Regions from separate parts of the Homo sapiens genome. Here all the other regions are linked to region 1. Evidence: fine-mapped expression QTL. A gene starts in region 1. Each other region holds a variant in brackets. All regions are shown on one strand. Distances are between the middles of the regions.

Region 1 (7,448 bases):
GAGTACAGTGGCGCGACCTCGCCTCACTGCAAGCTCTGCCTCCTGGGTTCACACCATTCTCCTGCCTCAGCCTCCCAAGTAGCTGGGACTATAGGCGCCCGCCACTACACCCGCCTAATTTTTTGTATTTTTAGTAGAGATGGGGTTTCACCGTGTTAGCCAGGATGGTCTCGATCTCCTGACCTCGTGATCTGCCCGTCTCGGCCTCCCAAAGTGCTGGGATTATAGGCGTGAGCCACCGTCGCCAGCCGACCCTCCATAGTTCCATTGAACACAGCTTAACATATGACTTTTTTTTGCTTTTTTGTTTTGTTTGTTTGTTTGTTGAGACAAGGTCTCCGCTCTGTTGCCCAGGCTGGAATGCAGTGGTGAGAACATGGCTAACTGCAGCCTCCACCTCCTGGGCTCAAGCAATCCTCCCGCCTCAGCCTTCCAAGTAGCTGGGACTACAGATGCATGCCACCATATATGACTAATTTTTTTATTTATATTTTTTGTAGAGATGGGGTTTTGTCATGTTGCCCAGGCTGGTCTGGAACTTCTTGGCTCAAGCAATTTTCTTGCATTGGCCTCCCAAAGTGCTGGGATTACAGGCGTGAGCCACCACACCTGGCCCAAGCATATAACTTTTGGAAGCTGACCTTGGCCGCCTGCCAGGTCTCAATTTAAATTCATGACTATTAATCTTAAAAAGGGCGAGAAAGGAAAGATTAGGTCAGATCAGAAAGTAAAAATTTGCCCTCCCATTCATCAGGCTAGGAAGTCAGACACAGATGAAACATTAAAAAGAAACAACGTTTCTTCAAAGATTAGGTCAGATCGGAAAGTAAAAAATCTGCCCTCCCATTCATCAGGCTAGGAAGTCAGACACAGATGAAACGTTAAAAAGAAATAACGTTTCCTTAAGTGACTCCTTGCAATTATAAATGTGTCATAAGGATACCCTTCGTGGGTGACTACTTATTCTTACTGAGAAAAATTGTTTTCTAAAAATCACAGACCATCAGAAACTTTGTTGTTTGCCATTGTGTCAGTAAGAATGAGATCTCATAGTTGTCTGGAAGATCTAAATCACTTTGACACTGGGAAGCAGTCTCAATTTCCAACTCAGATACGGGGCTTCTGAATACAACATTCCACATCTATCTCAATTTTGTAGTTTCCAGGGAGAAAAGACTTTGGGTCCACTGTAAAGTCTAGACTTAATGTTTATCCTTTTACAGATAGTCCCACTGTGCTTTGAACCTATCTTGATACTGTTCATTTACATTTAACCTAAACTTGGGGCAGGTGCGGTGGTGTGAGCCTGTAGTCCCAGCACTTTGGGAGGCCGAGACGGGTGGATCGCTTGAGCCCAGCAGTTCAAGACCAGCCTGGCCAACATGGCAAAACCCTGTCTCCACTAAAGATACAAAAAATTAGCCAGGTGTGGTGGTGCATGCGTGTAGTCCCAGCTACTTGGGAGGCTGAGGCAGGAGAATCGCTTGAACCTGGGAAGCGGAGGTCGCAGTGAGCTGAGATCGCACCACTGTACTCTAGCCTGGGCAACAGAGTAAGACTCCGTCTCAAAAACAAACAAACAAACAAACCTAAACTCCAAATTTTCTTGTAATTTTTATTAGAGTAAAATAAACCTATAAATGTATTCGGAAAGAATTGGTCCTTTTAATAATATTTAGTCTTTCCATAAAGGAACTTGGTATATTTATTTAAGTTTTCTTTCGAAACTCTTAGTAAAGTTTGTTAGTTTTCTTTATGTTGCTGGTTGCTGTTATTGCTAGGCATTTACATATGTTTTATTACCATTGTGAATGGCATTATTTTTCCATGACTTTTTTTTTTTTTTTGAGGCAGAGTTTCGCTCTTATTGCCCAGGCTGGAGTGCAATGGCACAATCTCAGCTCACTGCAACCTCCACCTCCCGGGTTCAAGCGATTCTCCTTCCTCAGCCTCCCAAGTAGCTGGGATTACAGGTGTACGCCACCGCGACTGGCTAATTTTTGTATTTTTAGTAGAGATGGGGGTTTCACCATGTTGCTCAGGCTGGTCTTGAGCTCCTGACCTTGTGATCCCCCTGCCTTGGTCTCCCAAAGTGCTGGGATTACAGGCATGAGCCACCACGCCCGGCCGTCAGGTTTCTTTATATGCTCCATTATAATCTTTTGGGACCACAATTGTATATTCAGTCCATCATCGATTGAAATGTCATTGTGCTGGGCATGACTGTACTTGTGACCGTTAATTTTAGATGTCAAGTTTACTGGGCTAAGAAATACCTAGCAACCTGTTAAAGCATTACCATGGGGCGTGTCTGTGAGGTTGTTTCCAGGAGAGATTAGTGAGTCTGAGTGGACTCGGTAGAGAAGATACACTCTCAGTGTGGGTGGGCACCATCCAATCAGCCAGGGGCCCAGAGAAAACAAAAACAGAAGAAAGGTCGATGTCTCTATCTCCTGAGGCTGGGATACAGTCATCTCCTGCCTTGAACAACAGGACTCCAGGATCCCCTGCCTTTGGACTTCAGGACTTACACCAGTCTCCCCACCCCCTGGATTCTCAGGCCTTTGGCTTTGGACTGAGAGTTATACCATCTTCTCTGGTTCTGAGGCCTTTGGACTTGAACTGAGCTCTCAGCAGTCTGTCATGCGACTTCTCAGTCTCCATAATCACGTGAGCCAATTCCCCTAATAATTTCCCTCTGCTATGCCTCTCTAGGTATCCTTTTGGTTCTGTCTCTCTGGAGTCCATCATCGACTGAAATATCATTATGCTGGGTATGACTGTAATTGTAATGGTTAATTTTAGATGTCAAGTTTGCTGGGCTAAGAAATACCTAGCAACCTGGTAAAGCATTACTGTTGGGCGTGAGAGAACGCTAACTGATACGCTCCTATAACTTCCCCAGGATATCATGGGATTTTAATAATGACAGTTATTACTACTTAACTGAGACATGCAGAGGTAATGAAAATACTTCAGGATCCACCGTTAGATGCACGGTCAGTAGATGTTGGGCTAATCTGAGACGTGCTATGGCAATTCGGTGTAGACCCACCCTGACTCATCCTCTGAGAAGATGCTGTTGATGGAGTTTTGGAAACCATTTCTTCTGTGCCCCCAAAGCATATTCGAAACAATAGACATTTTTTTTGGTGGGGGAAGACATGAAAGTTTGCCATGACGTTGTTTTCCCCTGGGTAGGGAGGAGGATGAAGATAGACGATCTGCAGTGCCGCCAGAAATGAGAATGTCAGGGATAAGTGGGGTTTCCATGGTTTACAAAGCACGGTTGTTGGATCATTGTGGGGTCTCAGACTCCTGGGAGGAGGAAGTGGGAGGATCATAGACTGTCTCCTGTCCATCCCCTCGCTGACGACTTGGGTTATTGAGCCACTAGGAGTACAAATGTGAAGCAGGAGGATTATAGACTGTCTCCTGTCCATCCCCTCATTGACGACTTGGGTTATTGATAGCATTAGGAGTACAAATGTAACAGCCACCACCGGAGGCTTCCTGCTCACGGATATGAGGTGGGAGATGCACCAAAATAAACACACAGCACTCACAGTGGACTCTGAGAGGACACTCCTCTTCCAGAACCCCCTCCCACACACCTATTCTAAGTAATTTCTAACCCTGTGATTACTCACAGAAAGAAGAAGAATAGAAGTTGCTGGCATTTGTAGTAACAGGATGAGAAAGTGCGAGACTTCCTGTTATGTGTGTGTGACAGCTGGTGATAAGTGGAGGGCCCTGCACAGGAAATCCGCTCAGCTCCTGCAATGGGGCCTGCCTGACACTTGGGCGCTCCTTCAGTCTCGATGTTGATGGCAGGACAAAGGGGCGCCTGGACCATGGGTGATGTGGTCGAGAAGAGTTTGGAAGGGCCCCTGGCACCTTCTACAGATGAGCCCTCCCAGAAAACAGGAGACTTGGTCGAGATCTTAAATGGGGAAAAGGTCAAATTTGACGACGCGGGACTCTCCTTAATTCTTCAGAATGGCCTGGAAACCCTGCGAATGGAAAACGCTCTGACAGATGTCATCTTGTGTGTGGACATTCAGGAATTCTCCTGCCACCGCGTGGTGCTTGCCGCAGCCAGCAACTATTTCAGGTCAGCATGCCTAGGACCAGAGTCAAATTGGGTGCAAGTTGCAAGGAAGAGGTGTGTTAGTGTGAGAGCCCAATCTTGAACAGTTGGCCATGATATTTATGGTTTACATATATATTAAGGCTTGTGTGTCTACTTAAAATATAAGAAAGGACACTATCACACTTTATTTTATTATTTATTTATTTATTTATTTTTGAGACGGAGTTTTGCTTTTGTTGCCCAGGCTGGAGTGCAATGGCGCAATCTCGGTTCACCGCAACCTCTGCCTCCTGGGTTCAAGCGATTCTCCTGCCTCAGCCTCCCGAGTAGCTGGGATTTGCAGGCATGCACCACAACACCCGGATAATTTTGTATTTTCAATAGAGATGGGGTTTCTCCATGTTGGTCAGGTTGGTCTTGAACTCCCGACCTCAGGTGATCCACCCGCCTCCGCCTCCCAAAGTGCTGGCATTACAGGTGTGAGACGCTGCGCCCGGCTTATCACACTTTAAATTTTAGGATTTAGGCCACATTAAAAGAGAGATTGGCATCATTTAAAAGCAATGCTTACATTCTATAGTAAACCTTTTGTGTATATTTCCTTGTTCCAAAGGATGGAAAATTACTGAAGTCATGGGGACTTTTTTCCCCCTTGGTCTGACTGGTGTTGGAAACATAATGTTGTCTTTGTTAATCAACAGACATAGAGAAAAAGGATGTGGCCCCTCTTCTGGAGTTGTCAAATGACTTGTTACAAATTAGGGGCTTCTTTATGTGTAGGCAGTGTGGGGAAAGGGAAAGCAGTTACAAAGATGCTTTAGATGGGAGAGGCCTCTAGTTACGATAAACTGGTGATCTCATAGTGGGAAGGCCTGAAGTCAGGAGACTTGGTTCCTTCTTGACAGTGAAACTTTAGGCAAGTCACAAAGTGCTCTGAATGTCTGTTTCATCATCTGTAAGGTGAGCACAATGATGATCACCTTTCAGGGCTGTCATAATTAAACAAGAGCGTGAAAAGGGTCCTACACAGTGTCTAGCATATAGTAAGTAGATGCTCAATATATCTTTCTTGGAATTCTTTTTCTGATTCTGCTTGATTCAGCTAAGGATGACTTATTGAGTGTTTCCCATGAGCACGTCCCTGGGGTAGGAATTTTATAGCGCTGGGAACCCAGTGAATACACCTGATCCAGTGTTCTCCATATCAGCATGGACATGGGGGAACCAGCCTGCAAGGGCAATGTGGATAATGAAGAAAGTATTTGGGAACTTGAAAAGAAATACCCTTAGAATTCTTCTTAATGAGATTCTTCTTAACTCTTGATTCTGGCTGAGGAAATTGAAAACGATTAACCTATGAAAGTATTATGGAAAGCGTTTTCTTTCTTTCTTTTTTTTTTTTTTGAGGTGCTTGGGGGGAAACGTTTCTTTGTAATTCATAGAGCAGGATCAGCAGGTTGCTGTGGGACTCATTAGGTCTCCTGTGTTGATAAGACAAGGGGATATCTGGGTTTGAGGGAAGCAGTGGCTGCTGTGTGCCAGACAGACATAGTTATCTGATTTTATTTTTGTAACAGCATGATGAAGGTGGCTGATATTTCACAGATGAGGAAATGAAAACTCAGCATTATATATCTGGTCATTGCTGGAGCAGGGACTGGGTATGTTCTGGAAATCCTTGTTACTGCAATGCAAGCTGCCACTAGGTCTGGGACTTCATTCCATGGGAAGTGTGTAAAATATAAAGTGTAAACACAGCCATCAAAATGGGTTGATATAAACACATTACTTTCTCCACCAACCTTGATCACGTGCTTTCACGTTGACTGCAGCCCCTCTCAGGAGTGAGTGAAGTCAAGTTAGCTCAATGCCCTGGGGACGCACATTTAGGTTGATCCTTTTGTATCCCTTGCTATCATAAAATGCATACCTGGAAGCAGTTTTGTTAGCGGGTTGGCCTGGCTGTGGACCAGGCCCGCTGGCTGTGTGCCCTCGAGTTGATCACTGGTCTTCTCTGGTTCTTGGGTTTCTCATCCTAAATGGGAATTTGGGCTTGGGTCCTTCCAGCCCTGCTGATCCAGGATACTTAGGGAAAGTCTCTGCCGGTCGTCAGAGGAGGCAACGGCAATGAGAAGCTGGAGAACATGAGGGTGAAGGCATCTGACTGTGTATACAGAGCCTCTCCCAAAACTGCCTGGTCATGAGAGGAAATTCCTTCAATTCTTCTCTTCAGAGAAGTGACTTTTGCTTCTTCTCTTGGGATTTTCAACGTGACTTTCCTTCTACAATGAATACTGTCCTGGAGACAGGATTCTTTCTTCCGGTGCTACTATTCCTATCAACTCCTGTTTGTGGAGCGCTTACTGTGGGCCAGGCCCTGTAGCTTCTGTATCACATACTCTAGTCCACTCCACCCTCACAACAACCTGACAAGGCAGGGAGTCCTATCCCCAGCCTACCGACGGTGAGCCAAAGTCCAGAGTGTCACAGCAAATAAAAAGTAGCCAAGCTGGGATTTAGACCTAGGACTGACGTTAAATCTGACACACTCTCTCGCTTTGTGTCTGAGGTTTTGAAAGGGGTTCTTCGTATGCTCAGGTTTAGGGAGGTCAAAGAGTCTCTCTGTCTGAGAGGCTTTCTTTTTTTTTTTTTTTTTTTTTTTTTGAGACGGAGTCTCGCTCTGTCGCCCAGGCTGGAGTGCAGTGGCACAATCTCTGCTCACTGCAAACTCCGCCTCCAGGGTTCAGGCCATTCTCCTGCCTCAGCCCCCTGAGTAGCTGGGACTACAGGCACCTGCCACCACGCCCGGCTAATTTTTTGTATTTTTAGTAGAGACGGGGTTTCACTGTGTTAGCCAGGATGGTCTCCATCTCCTGACCTCGAGATCCACCCGCCTCGGCCTCCCAAAGTGCTGGGATTACAGGCGTGAGCCACCGCGCCCGACCAGTCTGTGAGGCTTTCAACACAGCTCTCTGTGTTTTGGAGGGCCTGGAAGCTGGTTATAAAATTATGTCATTTTTTTCCTTTATTCACTGAGAAAATAATTACTTTCCACTAAGGGACTGACAATAGTTTATTAAACAGTCCCCTACGGACAGACATCTGGACTATTTCTAATCCACATTTTGCTATTACAAACAATGTTGTAATGAATAACCTGAAACATGAGTTTTTTTCATATGCATTTCTTGAAGGGGGTTTGCTGAGTCAAATGCATCTGCAGTCTTAGCGGTTATTGCAACTTCTCTTTCATTGGGGTTGAATCATGTTGCGTTCCCCCACGGCATCACCAAAAGAGGGTGTCATCCAACCGCTGAAGTTTTACCAATCTGATAAATGAGAAAGAATATCTCAA
Region 2 (7,448 bases), 47 kb after region 1:
TTTTCTCATTTTATCTGCAAATATTTCAGTTATGTCTAAAAGATAAGGATTCTTCTTAAACATAAACATGAAACTATTATTGCACCTCAAATGAATAATAATTGTTTCATTATCACCAATAGAAACAACTACTGTTATCAGGTCTTATGTGGCCTCCCAGAGTAGTCTAAGTTCCTAGAAATATCTACTTAATTTTCCTCTCCTCTTCCCCTCACGCAAACGCTGGCATGGTGATCGTGGTATTTTGCACTGGGGGCTACCATTTAAGTGAGTTTCCTTTCAGCTCTCATAGATGTCTCTGTGAACAGGGCCAGATAGGGTTCTGGTGTCCAGTTCTGAGGGCTCACGAGGCTTGGTCTTTGTTGCATATTTTTAGTCTTTGAACTGAAAATCTGCCAACGACTAAACAGGTGTTAGCAGCCTTGTTCACAACTGTTTCCACGGTTGCTCATGCAAAGAGCAGAGCTGCCGGCAGTTGAGACCAGCAGACATGGGGTTCTGAGGCAGAATTCAGGCCTTCTGCAACTTTGCATTGTGTAGGGAAAAGAGAGATCAGACTGTTACTGTGTCTATGTAGAAAGGGAAGACATAAGAAACTCCATTTTGACCTGTACCCTGAAAAATTGCTCTGCCCTGAGATGCTGTTAATCTGTAACTGCCCCAACCTCTTTGCCCCAACCTTAAGCTCACAAAAACATGTGTTGTATGGAATCAAGGTTTAAGGGATCTAGGGCTGTGCAGGATGTGCCTTGTTAACAAAATGTTTACAGGCAGTATGCTCGGTAAAAGTCATTGCCATTCTCCAGTCTCAATAAACCAGGGGCACAATGCACTGCAGAAAGCCGCAGGGACCTCTGCCCTGGAAAGCCGGGTATTGTCCAAGGTCTTTCCCCATGTGATAGTCTGAAATATGGCCTCGTGGGATGGGAAAGACCTGACCATCCCCCAGCCCGACACCCGTGAAGGGTCTGTGCTGAGGAGGATTAGTAAAAGAGGAAAGTCCCTTGCAGTTGAGATAGAGGAAGGCCACTGTCTCCTGCCTGCCCCTGGGAACTGAATGTCTCAGTATAAAACCCGATTGTACATTTGTTCAGTTCTGAGATAGGAGAAAAACCGCCCTGTGGCGGGAGGCGAGACATGTTGGCAGCAATGCTGCTTTATTATTCTTTATTCCACTGAGATGTTTGGGTGGAGAGAAGCAAAAATCTGGCCTACGTGCACGTCCAGGCATAGTACCTCCCCTTGAACTTATTTGTGACACAGATTCCTTTGCTCACATGTTTTCTTGCTGACCTTCTCCCCACTATCACCCTGCTCTCCTACTGCATTCCTCTTATTGAGATAGTGAAAATAGTAATCAATAAATACTGAGGGAACTCAGAGACTGGTGCCGGTGAGGGTCCTCCGTATGCTGAGCGCTGGTCCCCTGGGCCCACTGTTCTTTCTCTGTACTTTGCCTCTGTGTCTTATTTCTTTTCTCAGTCTCTCGTCCCACCTGACGAGAAATACCCACAGGTGTAGAGGGGCTGGCCCCCTTCAGCATTGACCCTCGGAGAAATGCTTTATTTATTTATTTATTTATTTATTTTGAGATGGAGTTTTGCTCTTGTTGCCCGGGCTAGAGTGCAATGACACGATATCAGCTAACCGCAACCTCCGCCTCCCAGGTTCAAGCATTCTCCTGCTGCAGCCTCCTGAGTAGCTGGGATTACAGGCATGTGCCACCACGCCTGACTAATTTTGTATTTTTAGTAGAGACGGGGTATCTCCATGTTGGTCAGGCTGGTCTCCAACTCCTGATCTCAGGTGATCTGCATGCCTCGGCCTCCCAAAGTGCTGGGATTACAGGCGTGAGCCACCGCGCCCGGCCTAAAAAATGCTTTTTAAACTGACAATCCTATGTGATCTGACACAGAAAGATAATATTTTGCAATAGAGGTTGATCCAAAAAGTCAGGGATGTGTTCCCTGGAATGCTCTGGAGTAAAGTCCAGAGCCTAGGTCACCTTGGTCCACTCTTAGAACCAGTCCTGCCCCACTATCAACCTTCAGGCTCGATAGCCCCACTCCCCACAGCTCCTGCCAACCCTCCCCAGTCAGGTCTGTCCTGTCCCTACTCTCACCAGGACCTGCCTTCAGAAGGCCTCCCCCACCCCCACCAGGTCTTGCCCCCTCAGCCTCCCCTTTCCTCTCCCCCCATTAATCGATCAACCCATGGGCACCAAGAACTTGACCCTATAAGGAGTCCAGTAGACGGGGAAGGGAGCTAGGAGGTTGAAATTGTTCAAAGCTAAGCTCCAGAGAACAACAAATAAGAATGAACCAATGCATTTGAGACATGTCATCTGTAAAATGGATATTACAAAATATAATGGATATAACAGTGCTTTGTCATCTGTAAAGTGCCCTACAAGCACAAGGGACTTGAATTTTTATGAGGATGGTGATAACTTAAAAGTGGGACCTGAGAGCCAATCAATAATTTTACAAATTGATTTTTTAATGACAAAAGCGGTACGTATTCATTTTAAAGGATATATAAATAAATAAAACATATAAATAAACAAAAACAGAAAAATTCTCATAGTCTTCTTAGAGTGTCATACCTTCTATTATTTATATAGTATATTCCCTGTCCATCCCATGAGACCTGTTTCTGTGGGAGAACTATGGTTCCCTTGATGACAAATTTTGCCATGTGACTTACTCTGGACGGTTTTGTGTAAATGGATATAGCATGCGCCCCCTCTGAGCAGAAGCTTTAAAAGCCTCTGTGTGGTTCTGCCATCTTTTTCCCCTTCTGTCATGGGACCAGCATGTCTCAGGTAAGGGCTTTCCATCTTCCTGGCCCCTGGAATGAAGAGCCCCGTGAAGAACACATAGTGGGTAAGAGGAACATTTATTGTAAGCCCCTGAGACGTGAGGGTTGTTTGCTGCTGCAGCAGAATTTGCCTTAAGATACCTGATAACCCAAAGAGATAACAACCATTAATATTTTGACCTACATCCTTTCATCTTCTTTCTATGACTTTATTCTGTGTATGTTTTCTTTATAAAAATAAGGTCACAATGTACATATGATTTGTGACGTGCTTTTCTCATTTTATCTGCAAATATTTCACTTATAGCTCTAAAAAATAAGGATTCTTCTTCAACATAAACATGAAACCATTATGGCACCTAAAATGAATCATAATTGTTTCATTAGCACCAAATATTAGTCATTGTAAACATTTCTCCAACTTTAAAAAATATATATTGTTTAAATCAGGAATCCAAATAAGATCCATACTTTGCAATTGGTCAATGTGTCTTAAATCTCTGTTTATCTTTAGGTTCTCCCTCTCCTTCTCTCTCTCTTTTATCCCCTTGTAATGTATTTGTTGAAGAAACTGAACAAGTTGTTCAGTAGAGTTTTCCACAATCTGGATTTTGCTGATCATGTTCCCATGACGTCTTTAGCAGGTTCCTCTTTCCCTGTATTTCCTGTAAATTGCTGAGTAAATGTAGAGGCTTAATCAGATCCAATGAACAGATTTTAAAACTCAATACATTATGAACATTTTCTATTTCATTTAATATTTTCTACAACATGTGTTTTAAGTATCTACAGAGCTATCGACTGTATGAATGAATTATATGTATTTAGCTAGTCCCGTAAGTGTCTCATTGTTTTAAGTCGACTGTATGAATGAATTATATGTATTTAGCTCCTCCCGTAAGTATCTCATTGTTTTGTCGACTGTATGAATGAATTATATGTATTTAGCTCGTCCAGTAAGTATCTCATTGTTTTAAGTCTACTGTATGAATGAATTATATGTATTTAGCTCATCCTGTACTGTTGGACATTTAGGTTGTTTCCAATTTTTG[G/T]CTAATACACATAACTCACTGATAAACCTCCTTGTGGACTCACCATTTTCTGGCCTCCTTTCCACCCTTTCTATTTCATCAGTTCCTGCGGATGGTGGATGCCTGTGCCAGCTTCCTCACTGAAGCCTTGAACCCAGAAAACTGCGTTGGAATACTGAGGCTGGCTGACACACACTCGCTGGACAGTCTAAAGAAGCAGGTTCAGAGTTACATCATTCAAAACTTTGTGCAGATTCTGAACTCTGAGGAGTTTCTTGACCTGCCCGTGGACACTCTGCACCACATCTTGAAGAGTGATGACCTTTACGTGACCGAGGAGGCTCAGGTGTTTGAGACCGTGATGAGCTGGGTCCGGCACAAGCCATCAGAACGACTCTGCTTACTCCCCTATGTCCTCGAGAACGTGCGCTTACCGCTTCTGGACCCGTGGTACTTTGTGGAGACGGTGGAAGCAGATCCTCTCATCAGGCAGTGCCCAGAGGTCTTCCCGCTGCTCCAGGAAGCCAGGATGTACCACCTTTCTGGCAATGAGGTGAGTAGAAGATAAGAGGTGCTATATTTAACCAGCGAAGTAAGGAGTTAGCTAGGGGCTCACAGAGATGCAAGCAAAGCGGATTCAAAAATCCTTAGGGCATTAAGGAGAAAACACTGCCCTGTTCATTGCTGAGTCGGTCAGTTCCAGAAGCCCTGATTCCTGATCTATGAGGCCGATCCCACGTGTTCAGACAGTTACTGAGCGCGTTAGGTGAGATGTAGAAATCACCCAGCACCATGCCTGGCCCGTGCTTCCTCTTCCCAGTTGTGGAAGGGTGGGAGGTTGGGGGTCACACTGCACGCACAAACAAGAATGTGCCCTGGGCCGGGCCTGGTGGCTCACACCTGTAATCCCAGCAGTTTGGGAGGCCCAGGGCGGGTGGATCACGAGGTCAAGAGATCCAGACCATCCTGGCCAACATGGTGAAACCCTGTCTCTACTTAAAAATACAAAAAAATTAGGTGGGCATGGTGGCATGCACCTGTAGTCTCAGCTACTCGGGAGGCTGAGGCAGGAAGATCACTTGAACCCGGGAGGCAGAGGTTGTAGTGAGCCGAGATCACGCCACTGCACTCCAGCCTGGGCAACAGAGGGAGACTCTGTCTCAAAAAGCAAAGCAAAACAAAACAAACAAAAAACAAAAAAAACAAGAACGTGCCCTGTCTAGTCACTATTCCATGGGGGTGCTGCTCTTCCTTGCCCACTCTGGTGAAATCTTGTGTCTCTTGTATATACTCTGACATCACTTTGATTTAGACTCTCACCATCTGAATTTCTGGAAATTTCTCAAAACTCATCTTCCTCCCCCAAGTCTGGCCTCCCTCCAATTTATTCACCAGCTGAAAGATCTGAAACTCAAGTCTGATCATCTTGCTCCTGGGCTTGCCTTCTTCATTGGCTCCCCATCACTTTCAGAATAAAGCCCATACTTCCTGCCTACGTTCCCAGAGCCTGGTCTTGCATCATTAATCTCCTGCCTGCTTCTCTAGTGTCCTCTCCAACCTCCCACTTCTGCTCTAGTCCTAATGCACAGCTTGTGGTTCCCCAAAGTGGATGTGCTTTTTCTGCCTCCAGGTCAATCTGAATGTTGTTCAAATGCTTTTCTCTTCTTCATCTAGCTGACTTCTACTCCTACTTCAAAACTCAGTCCAAGCATCACTTTCTCCAGAGACTTCTCCTTTTATTTATTTATTTATTTATTTATTTATTTATTTATTTATTTATTTTTGAGAGGAGGTCTTGCTCTGTTGCCCAGGCTGGAGTACAGTGGTGCAATCATAGCTCACTGCAGCCTCGACCTCCCAGGCTTAAGTGATCCTCCCACCTCAGCCATCCAAGTAGCTGGGAGTACAGGCATGTGCTACCACACCCGGCTAATTTTTAAATATTTTGTAGAGACAAGGTCTCACTATGTTGCCCAGGCTGGTCTTGAACTCCTGAGCTTAAGTGATCTTCTCATCTCAGCCTCCCAAAGTGCTAGGGTTACAGGTGTGAGCCACCACACCCAGCCACTCTCCGTGTTCTCATAGCACTTGGTGCATTGCTCCATCACAGCACCAACTGCTGCATGGCAATGATTTGAATTTATTATATGTAAATATCTCTAGACTGGGAGCTTGTTATAGTAGGAAATATGTCTTATTGCACTTTACATCTCTAGATCTTAGAAGAGAGTCCTGAGACTGCTATATAGTGAATGAGTAATTAGTAAATGCTTGTTGAATGATTAAATGGGTACTACGAACGGTGAATAAACATGTCATTTGGATCTACCTGGTTCTCCTTAACAATTCCTGAAGAAGATTTTTCTTCAGAACTTTATAAAGACAAGAACAAATTTAGTGGAGAGGAAGTAATGATATAGGGACAGTTTGTTAACAGTTTGTACACATGAACACCCATACATATATCTCACTATGCAGTGGTTCTGGGATTAGCTACCAGGCTTTCTTCATTAGGCCATTGGTAGAAGCCTTAGCCAAACGTGGCCCAGGAATTGTCTGTCTGAGGTTCTTTTAGAGTTTCTCCCTTTTTCTGTGTGTTCTTTTCTAGTTTTTTTGTTGTCCTTAGATCCACTGTTCATTCATTCACTCTGCAAACATACCCTTAAATGTTTAGTAGAATTTACCAGAGCCTGGTGTTTTCTTTGTGGAAAGTTTTTAAACTATAATGTATATCTCTTTAATAGATATAGGACTATTTAGGATCTCTGTTTCTTCTAGAATGAATTTTGATAGTTTGTGTCTCAAAGAATTTTTTCATTTAATATAAGTTGCTGAATTTATTGGCATAAAGTTGTTCACAGCATTCCTTTATTATCTTGTTAATACCTGCAGAATCTATAGTGTTGTCACATCTCTCATTCCAGATATTGGTAATTTGTGTCTGCCCTTTTTTTTTTTCCTGATCAATCTGGTTAGAGGCTTATCAATTTTATTGATTTTTCTCAAATAACTAATGTCTAGTTTCATTTGATTTTCTCTATTGTTTTTCTGTTTTCTATTTCACCTATTTCCACTCTGATCATTATTTTCTTTCTTTCTGCTTAGTTTGGGTTTAATTTGCACTTATTTCTGTAGTTTCTTAAGGTGGAAGTGGAGGCCACTGATTTGAGACTTTCTTTCTAATATTGGCTTTCATGCTATAAATTTCCCCCTAAAAACTACTTAAACAGCATCCCATGTATTTAAGCACGCTATGCCTTCATTTTTTGCAAATAAATCCTGAACACCAATTCCTTGCCAGATATGGCACCAGGTACTGCAAAAACAGTCTGTGTCTTACCCAGGTACTGCTAAACAGTCTGTGTGTCAGAGAAGATGGGACATTTAACAAATGAAGGGTGATGAGTGGATTGATGGGGGGAGCCTAGGAAACCACATAGGTCCTATTCTATGCTGGATGTCTAGCAGACAGCCTGCATATAATTGCAGACAGGTTTCAGTCTCCGTAACTGCCCTCAGTTCAGCATTTATTCAGTGTCTCCCATGGAATACTACACAGCCATAGAAAAGAATGCAATCATGTTTTTTGCAGCAACA
Region 3 (7,448 bases), 39 kb after region 1:
TCACCATGCAACCACCAGTCAGATCAACATTGACAACAGCCCTGGCATCCCAGAACTCTCCTTCACAGCCTCCCTAGCCAGTCCTTTCCCACGCTAATTACTGCTCTAGCATCTGTTGCCATGGGTTAGTTTTGCCTGCTTTTGAATTTCATATTGTTCTTTTTGAGTCCTAACTAGTACAGAGGGTCTGAATCTTAGGCTACAAACTCAAGTGTGCCAAAAAGAATGTGATTTAACCTATTATTTTTCTGTTTTCTTGTTTTTTTTTTTTTTTTTTTTTTGAGACAGGGTTTTGGTGTGTCACCTAGGCTGGAGTGCAGTGGCACAATCATAGCTCACTGCAGCCTTGAACTCCCAGGCTCAAGAGATTTTCCTACCTTGGCCTTTCAAGTAGCTGGGAATATAGCCATGCACCACTATGCCCGGCTTTTTATTATTATTATTATTATTATTTTAGAGACAAAGTCTCTCTCTGTTGCCCAGGCTGGTCTTGAACTCCTTGCCTCAAGCAATCCTCCTGCCTCAGCCTCCCAAAGTGCTGGAATTACAGGCATGAGCACTGTGGTCGTCCAAACCTGTTATTTTTCTATCATTGAACTTAATTTCTATCCTGAGCTCTCATTCTACCAGTGGCAGAAATCATAGGTAGTGACACAGGAAAGTTTAATCAATTCAGGATTCGGGTTGCTTATATAGTTCCAGGAAACATTTATACAGTGCCAGGGCATTGAAAAAAGAGGCATCTGTCCTGGGCTTACCATGGTCATTTGCATTATTGGTCCATGTGGCACCCACTGGAGCACCTGTGTTCCCATCAGTCTCTCTCTGATTTTTCATTCCTTTCTCACTGACATCAACAAGTCCCCAGTCCTACCTGATTCTGGTCATTGGTCCTTGCAGGTCACTTTGCATTCTCTCTGTCCTGTTTGCAAAGCCTCTTCAGGTCTGGCAATCCTCTCAGCTACATCTGTGCCCCTCTCAAGACAAAAGACACTTCCATTCCCTCTCCTTTACAAATCCAGAGCTACAGGGGACGTGGAGCAACTGCCACAGGGCCCCTTTGTCTGGAAACAATACACTCTCATCTCATCTGCTGCTGCCATACCGGACTGCTGCTTTTCTGCTTTCAGCTCGGCGATCAAGGCACATGTTCTTTTGTTCTCAGATTCACAACCTATAAGGGACGTTTAGCATCCCCCTCACTCTGGAGATTTGGCCTGGGATGGGAAGCAAGGCATCATCTCGGGAACCCACCCCTGCTTCTCACTCTGTTGTTAGACAATCTCTCTCTTGTCCCTCTTCCTTGCCTGGGAATCTTTATTGCCTCCAGGGTGGGAAAAGCTGACTCTTGCTTTGTCATCCGTTCTCTCACGTCTCCTGTTTTGGTATAAACTTTGTACCCAGACTCTTTAGGACTCTGGCTTTTGAGGCTGGAAGGGGTAGGTTCTTACCACTAACTGGTATTTCTTTCAAAACCACTTCTCTAGTTTAAGTTCTGAAAGTCTATTTAGAAACTCAAAAGCCAAGAATTATCTTCTTTTGCCTGCTCTATCACCCCTTCCCTGAGTAAGCCTGTGCTCGGTTGCTGCCTATAGGTTGTAAAATACAGGAAGTGGGGTGTGGGGTTTTTAATTGTAATGAAAATCCATATCGCTACCAGATTCTGACTTTAACTGCTCCCTAACTACCACAAATTACTAAGCATGTTCTAAGTGCAAGGTGTTTTGTGAGAAGCTGTCAGGAGAATATAAAGATTAAAAATGTGGAGTACAGATCACATTTTTGTAGCAATTTTGTCCCCTACATATCCCATTTGATGTTGACCATGTCTCTGTGGGCGAGCAGGCTAGGTAGAACCATCAGTGTGAGCCTGCGAGGTGAGTTTTATGTTCTTAGCACTTTCCAGATGAGAAAACTAGCTGAGAGAGAGAGAGTGTTCAGCTCATCAAGTGGTGGAGCTATGGGTGGAATTTTCAAGTAAACCCAGAACTTCCAACTCCATATATCCACTTCCCTCCACTATCCCTGAAAGATTCTCAATGAGCCTCCAGGCCATTGGGCAAACCAAGTAGAGCCCAGGGCAGAAAGGAGGGGACATTGAATTGGACCTCATAGGATGGTGGCAGTAGGATTGGGAGAAAAGTATTCCAGGCAGAGAGAACCTGGAAGTGGACTTGTTTCAGCCTTCTCTACCCACCACCCCACCTATTGCAGCTGCCTGTGTTCACGGGGCTGCTTCTCAGCACTTGTCTTCTGCTTCCATTCCTGCTCCTGTGCCCTACGCACACACACACAAACCACACCCTGAGCATCAATCATGTCCGAGATGCAATCATTCTACTTAATCTTTACAACAGTGTTTCTCCCTGGTCCTTACCTCATTGCTGGGCTGAATCACTGAGCCCCAGCCATGCCACTTGCCCCTTGAATATGTGGGTCACATGTATTGCCTGTTGTGCCCTGCTAGCCTGCTGGGGCCACCACCGTCTTCTCTGGAAACTCAGGGGCTGTTTGCTGATTGAACACAATTGTAAGCTTGCCACACTGCTGGTCTTTTCCCCAGTCCACTTCCACAGTTGCCTCAGTCCCTCAACACCTGCCCTGCCTTAGTGAGCAGGTCTTTTGCAGGTCTTAGTTCCTTCCTTTTCTGCCCACTCCATGAGGCTTCCAGGAACCAGCAGGTTTCTCAGCCAAGTCTAGAGCAAGGACTGAAAGGAGTGGCTAGAGGGAGCAGAGAATGCCCCTCCTGGGGGACTGTGAGACATACTGCCACGGGAACGGAGCTGGAGCATCGCCCGGGAGAGGGGAAGAGAGGTGAGGATGGAAGATTAGAATCAATGGTAATTCACAAATTTTTAGCATGAAGACCCCTTTTAAACACCAACACAGACCTCACAGGAGAGGAACTTTACTTTTAGTGTCTATTGCTGGAGAAGAAAAGTTTTGACAAAAAATTTACAATTGTCTGGGCACAGTGGCTCACACCTATAATCCCAGCACTTTGGGAAGCCAAGGCAGGCAGATCACTTGAAGCCAGGAGTTCGAGACCAGCCTGGCCAACATGGCAAAACCCTGTGTCTACTAAAAATATTATATAAAAATTAGCTGGGTGTGGTGGTGCGAGCCTGTAATCCCAGCTACTCGGGAGGCTGAGGCACAAGAATCACTTGAACCCGGGAGGTGAAGGTTGCATTGAGTTGAGATCACACCATGCACTCCAGCCTGGGTGACAGCATGAGACTCTGTCTCAAAAAACAACAACAAAAATTACAATGAATTCAGAAATAC[T/C]TTGAAATAAATTTAAATGTTATTAATCTCATCACACCTTCACACATGCTGATTTGTCGGAGCTGAAGGTAAGAATATCAATGTCTTTATAGACCCTTTGCAATAACGCCAAAGCCACTTGGACACCATGATCAACAGAATTGCTGATGTGGACTAAAATAGGACTTCAGTGATTCTGAAGTGGATTTGAAGGCACCTTGAGGGAGACATGGAGTCACATGGGTGAAGTCCCCTAGGACCTCAGATTTTGGAGAACGTCATGGGGAAGCAGAGGAGGGGCAGTGGAGATGAGGAACAGGCAGTGCTTTCTCTTGGAGGCAGACACTTCTTGTGGGAACTGCAGCCACGTCTCAAGTGGTTTCTTTGATTGTATTTTTAGTCTCCTCATTTGAGAGTCAGGTGGCTGGCTGCAACCTTTTGCTCACATGTCCCCCCAAACAGGAAGCTGGCTGTCTTTTGCCATTATCTGTCATCTCTCAGCTCTGACAAACAAGTTCATGTGTCATCGGGACAGGCCGAGACAGAAAATTTACCTTGAAGTCTTGAATAATCTTGAATGTGAAGAAGCAAAAGCATATTTAAAAGAAACCCATTTCTGGTTCCCATGATTGCCCTGCGCATCATCAGTTTCCCAGCCATTGGTTGGGATCATGTGATGTTGCCCTACACCCCTCACACTAAAAGTGTTTATTGAAGTATATTTTGGAGGAACTTAGGCAACTTGGAGATCCCCCACCTGCCTCTGTCCTCATAAAGCCTCTTCAGACTCTCCTGGCATTTTGTTAGCTCAACAATGCAACAAGTTACAAAGGCACCACGATGCTGACTGGAGCATCAACTGTACTGCCTCCTAGCAGTGTGAACTTGCATCGCTCTTTGAATTCTCTATTTGCTCCTTTATACAAATGCTAATTCTAACACCTTCCCTTTTTTACCTGTTAAATAAAATACACTTGTTAAAAAATAAAATTTATTTGTTAAGTGAAATAATGACTGGGAATGTGTCTAGCACAGATCTTGGTGCATACTAAGTGATAAATATGTCCTTCCTCTGTCCCTCTTTCTCTTCTTTTTCCAGACTTTCTGCTAGATGCTGCTAGAAATAAATACCCAAGTATGACCTAGAAGCTGCTTTGAGATGCTTGTCTCAACTGACCTTAGTACTCTGGGTGCTCCACAAAAGGGGAAAGCAAGGTGCCCAGTGGAGCACAGAGGAGGGAGGGATTCCATGTTGGGGAATAGGAGAAGCCGTCAAGGAAGAAGTAGCTTTTAAGAATGAACTTCATGAATAGGTAGGATTTCTCTACAATTCTTCTTTTCCTTTTTATTTTTAGTTTTTTAGAGACAGAGTCTTGCTCCGTCACCCAGGCTAGAGTACAGTGGTGTGATCATGGCTCACTGCAAACTTGAACTCCCAGGCTCAAGCAATCCTCCCTCCTCAGCTTCCCAAGTAGCTGGGACTATAGGCATGCAACACCACAACAGGCTAATTTTTACATTTTTTGTAAAGACGAGGTCTCACTATGTTGCTCAGGCTGGTCTTGAAATCCTGGGCTCAATTGATTCTCCTACCTTGGCCTCCCAAAGTGCTGGGATTATAAGCTTAAGCCATTGTGCCCAGCCCTTAAACAATTATTGACCCAGAATTTTAAATGTCCAGAGGTGGGGTTCCAAGCACCGTCTAGTCAAGACTCTGGCTCTCTTCCTCTCTGGATCTTTTGACTTAGCTCTCTCTCTTGTGTTGGTTTTGTACTTAGGTGGAAGGATACCAGGGAGTAACTCACCTGTCCCCTGCCAACTAAGTTCCCAGAAAAATGCCACATGTGCAAATGTTCACATACTATTGTAGGGGTTCACAGACTTTCTGGATCGATCCATTGATCCCAGATGTAATAACTCTGAATCAAGAAAATAGCCCTGGCCGGGCATGGTGGCTCATGCCTGTAATCCCAGCACTTTGGGAGGCCGAGGTGGGCAGATCACTTGAGGTTAGGAGTTCGAGACCAGAATGGCCAACATGGTGAAACCCCATCTGTACTAAAATACAAAAAAATTAGCCAGGTGTGGTGGCGTGCCCCTGTAGTCCCAGCTGCTTGGGAGGCTGAGGCAGGAGAATCACTTGAACCTGGGAGGCAGAAGATGCAATGAGCCGAGATCGTGCCACTGTACTCCAGCCTGGGCAACAAGAGAGAGACTCCATCTCAAAAAAAAAAAATTAAATTAAATTTAAAAAAAGAAAGAAAACAGCCCTGTGTGGATAGAGTCATGGCTATAATATTTATGTCTTCCTTCTTCTTGAGGTAAACTTACAGGGGGATTTCTCTGTTGAAAATGGGGTGAGCTATCCTGAGTCTTTCCTTAAAAAGTTGGGCTCTGGAGTTGGGCTTGTCTGGGTGAGGCGCGTAGGATCATAACAGATGGTGATGATGAGGAAAGGCAGCTCAGGCCGAGAGATGGCAGGAGCGTGGAAAGGCACTGCAACAGGGCAGCTCCAGGACTGCTTGGAGGAGGTGAGGAGATGGGTGCAATTGTGGCTAGAGTTCTGAAAGGGAGGTTCCTGGTGATGACTGACAGCCAGATTGTGGAAGATTGAAGGGGTGGGGGTAGGACTGTCCTTGGTTTCAGGCAATGGAGTCCCTGGACTCTGGTCCATAGCATTTATCTCAAGTGTCCTTCCACACTCCGTGTTGTATTATTTGGTTAGCGTCTGCTGCCTCCACTGGTCTGTCGGCTTCAATGAGCGCAGGCGCTTTGTCTCTGCTCACCTCTGTACACCCAGCACTAGTTGGGAGCCTCCTACATAATATTAATAGATGCTCGCAGCCATAAAAAAGGATGAGTTCATGTCCTTTGCAGGGACATGGATGAAGCTGGAAGCCATCATTCTCAGCAAACTAACACAGGAACAGAAAACCAAACAACGCATGTTCTCACTCATAAGTGGGAGTTGAACAATGAGAACACATGGACACGGGGAGGGGAACATCACACACTGGGGCCTGTCGGGTGGTGGAGGGGAAGGGGAGAAAGAGTATTAGGACAAATACCTAATGCATGCAGGGCTTAAAACCTAGATGACGGGTTGATAGGTGCAGCAAACCATGGCACACGTATACCTATGTAACAAACCTGCACATTCTGCACGAGTGTCCCAGAATTTAAAGTAAAATAAAAAAAAAGAAATACATGCTCAATTCACATTCGGTCCATACACAGGTAGCTGGATGGATGAATTGCCAGGTGGAGTGAAGATCAATGCTTCTTCTAACAAATGTGAGCTTCAGTACTTGATTTGATTCTCCTCTGTGGTTTCCTTCTTTGCTCATCAACAGCCACCAAGCAGGAATAGGAACCGGCATCTTGTTGGCTAGTCCTTCCTGTGTCAGGGCAGATCAGGTCATCTGAGCTACCCAGTGACGTGTGCAAATGACGTTTGGCATCTGCCAAGCCTTTGTCCCCCACACACATTTTGTGACCTGCAGCAGCTTGAAATAGTATAAAAAACATGCATTTTTGGAATCAGAGATGACTGGTCCAAACTTTGCTTCTATCTTTTATTAACTGTAAGTCTCTGAGGAAATTACTTCTCTGAATCTGGTTTCCTCAGGGATGATAATAGATACCCTTTTCATGGCATTGTGGTGAGGATTGAGTAACTCTTACAGTTAGTATGTAGAGTCTGGCCTATAGTAAGTGCTCTTTTAGTGTTTACCTTTTATTTTCTCATTGCGTCCTTTAAAAATCACAATAATGTGTTTATTTTACGTATTTTTTCCTGAGTTTATAATGTTCATGCTCAGTATAGTAAAGTTGTCATACAACAAACTCTAAAAAAATTAATAACTTTATCTATAACCACTGCTAACATTTTGTATGTTACCTTCTAGTATTTTCTCTATAAATGAGAAAGTTGGTCTATTTTAGGTAGGTATTTCTTACACACAATTGGAGAGGATAGGAAGTGGTGAAGAGGGTAAAGTAATTCTCCCTTTCTTCCCTGAAATTGGATGGGAATTACAGTGTGAGCCACTGTGCCTGGCCTCTATGACTTTATTTTATATATATATTTATTTATTTATTTATAAAAATAGGATCATAGTCCCGGCCTGGTGGCTCATGCCTGTAATGCCAACACTTTGGGAGGCCAAGGTGGGTGGATC

Evidence for each region. PIP is the estimated chance that this variant, and not a neighbour inherited with it, causes the effect.
Region 2: its variant is the best candidate, but not a certain one, in a credible set for the expression of KLHL6 in blood mononuclear cells (TOPMed, PIP 0.63).
Region 3: its variant is the best candidate, but not a certain one, in a credible set for the expression of KLHL6 in whole blood (INTERVAL, PIP 0.77).

The regions. Positions count from the first base shown.
Region 1 is chr3:183,552,027-183,559,474 of GRCh38, reverse strand. It overlaps KLHL6 (kelch like family member 6), which reads left to right and starts at 3,769. Exons shown (of 7, transcript NM_130446.4): 1 at 3,769-4,114. The coding sequence starts at 3,822. It overlaps KLHL6-AS1 (KLHL6 antisense RNA 1), which reads right to left. Exons shown (of 2, transcript NR_046687.1): 2 at 7,149-7,422. RefSeq lists a silencer at 6,740-6,909.
Region 2 is chr3:183,505,015-183,512,462 of GRCh38, reverse strand. It overlaps KLHL6 (kelch like family member 6), which reads left to right. Exons shown (of 7, transcript NM_130446.4): 3 at 3,955-4,404. Among named protein-coding and RNA genes, the nearest start is that of KLHL6-AS1, 40 kb to the left of the region's middle. RefSeq lists an enhancer at 3,436-4,635. The variant G/T (reference allele first, on the strand shown) is at 3,873.
Region 3 is chr3:183,512,729-183,520,176 of GRCh38, reverse strand. All of the region lies in intron 2 of KLHL6 (kelch like family member 6), which reads left to right. Among named protein-coding and RNA genes, the nearest start is that of KLHL6-AS1, 32 kb to the left of the region's middle. RefSeq lists enhancers at 1,061-1,561, 3,568-3,847, 6,755-6,804. The variant T/C (reference allele first, on the strand shown) is at 3,289.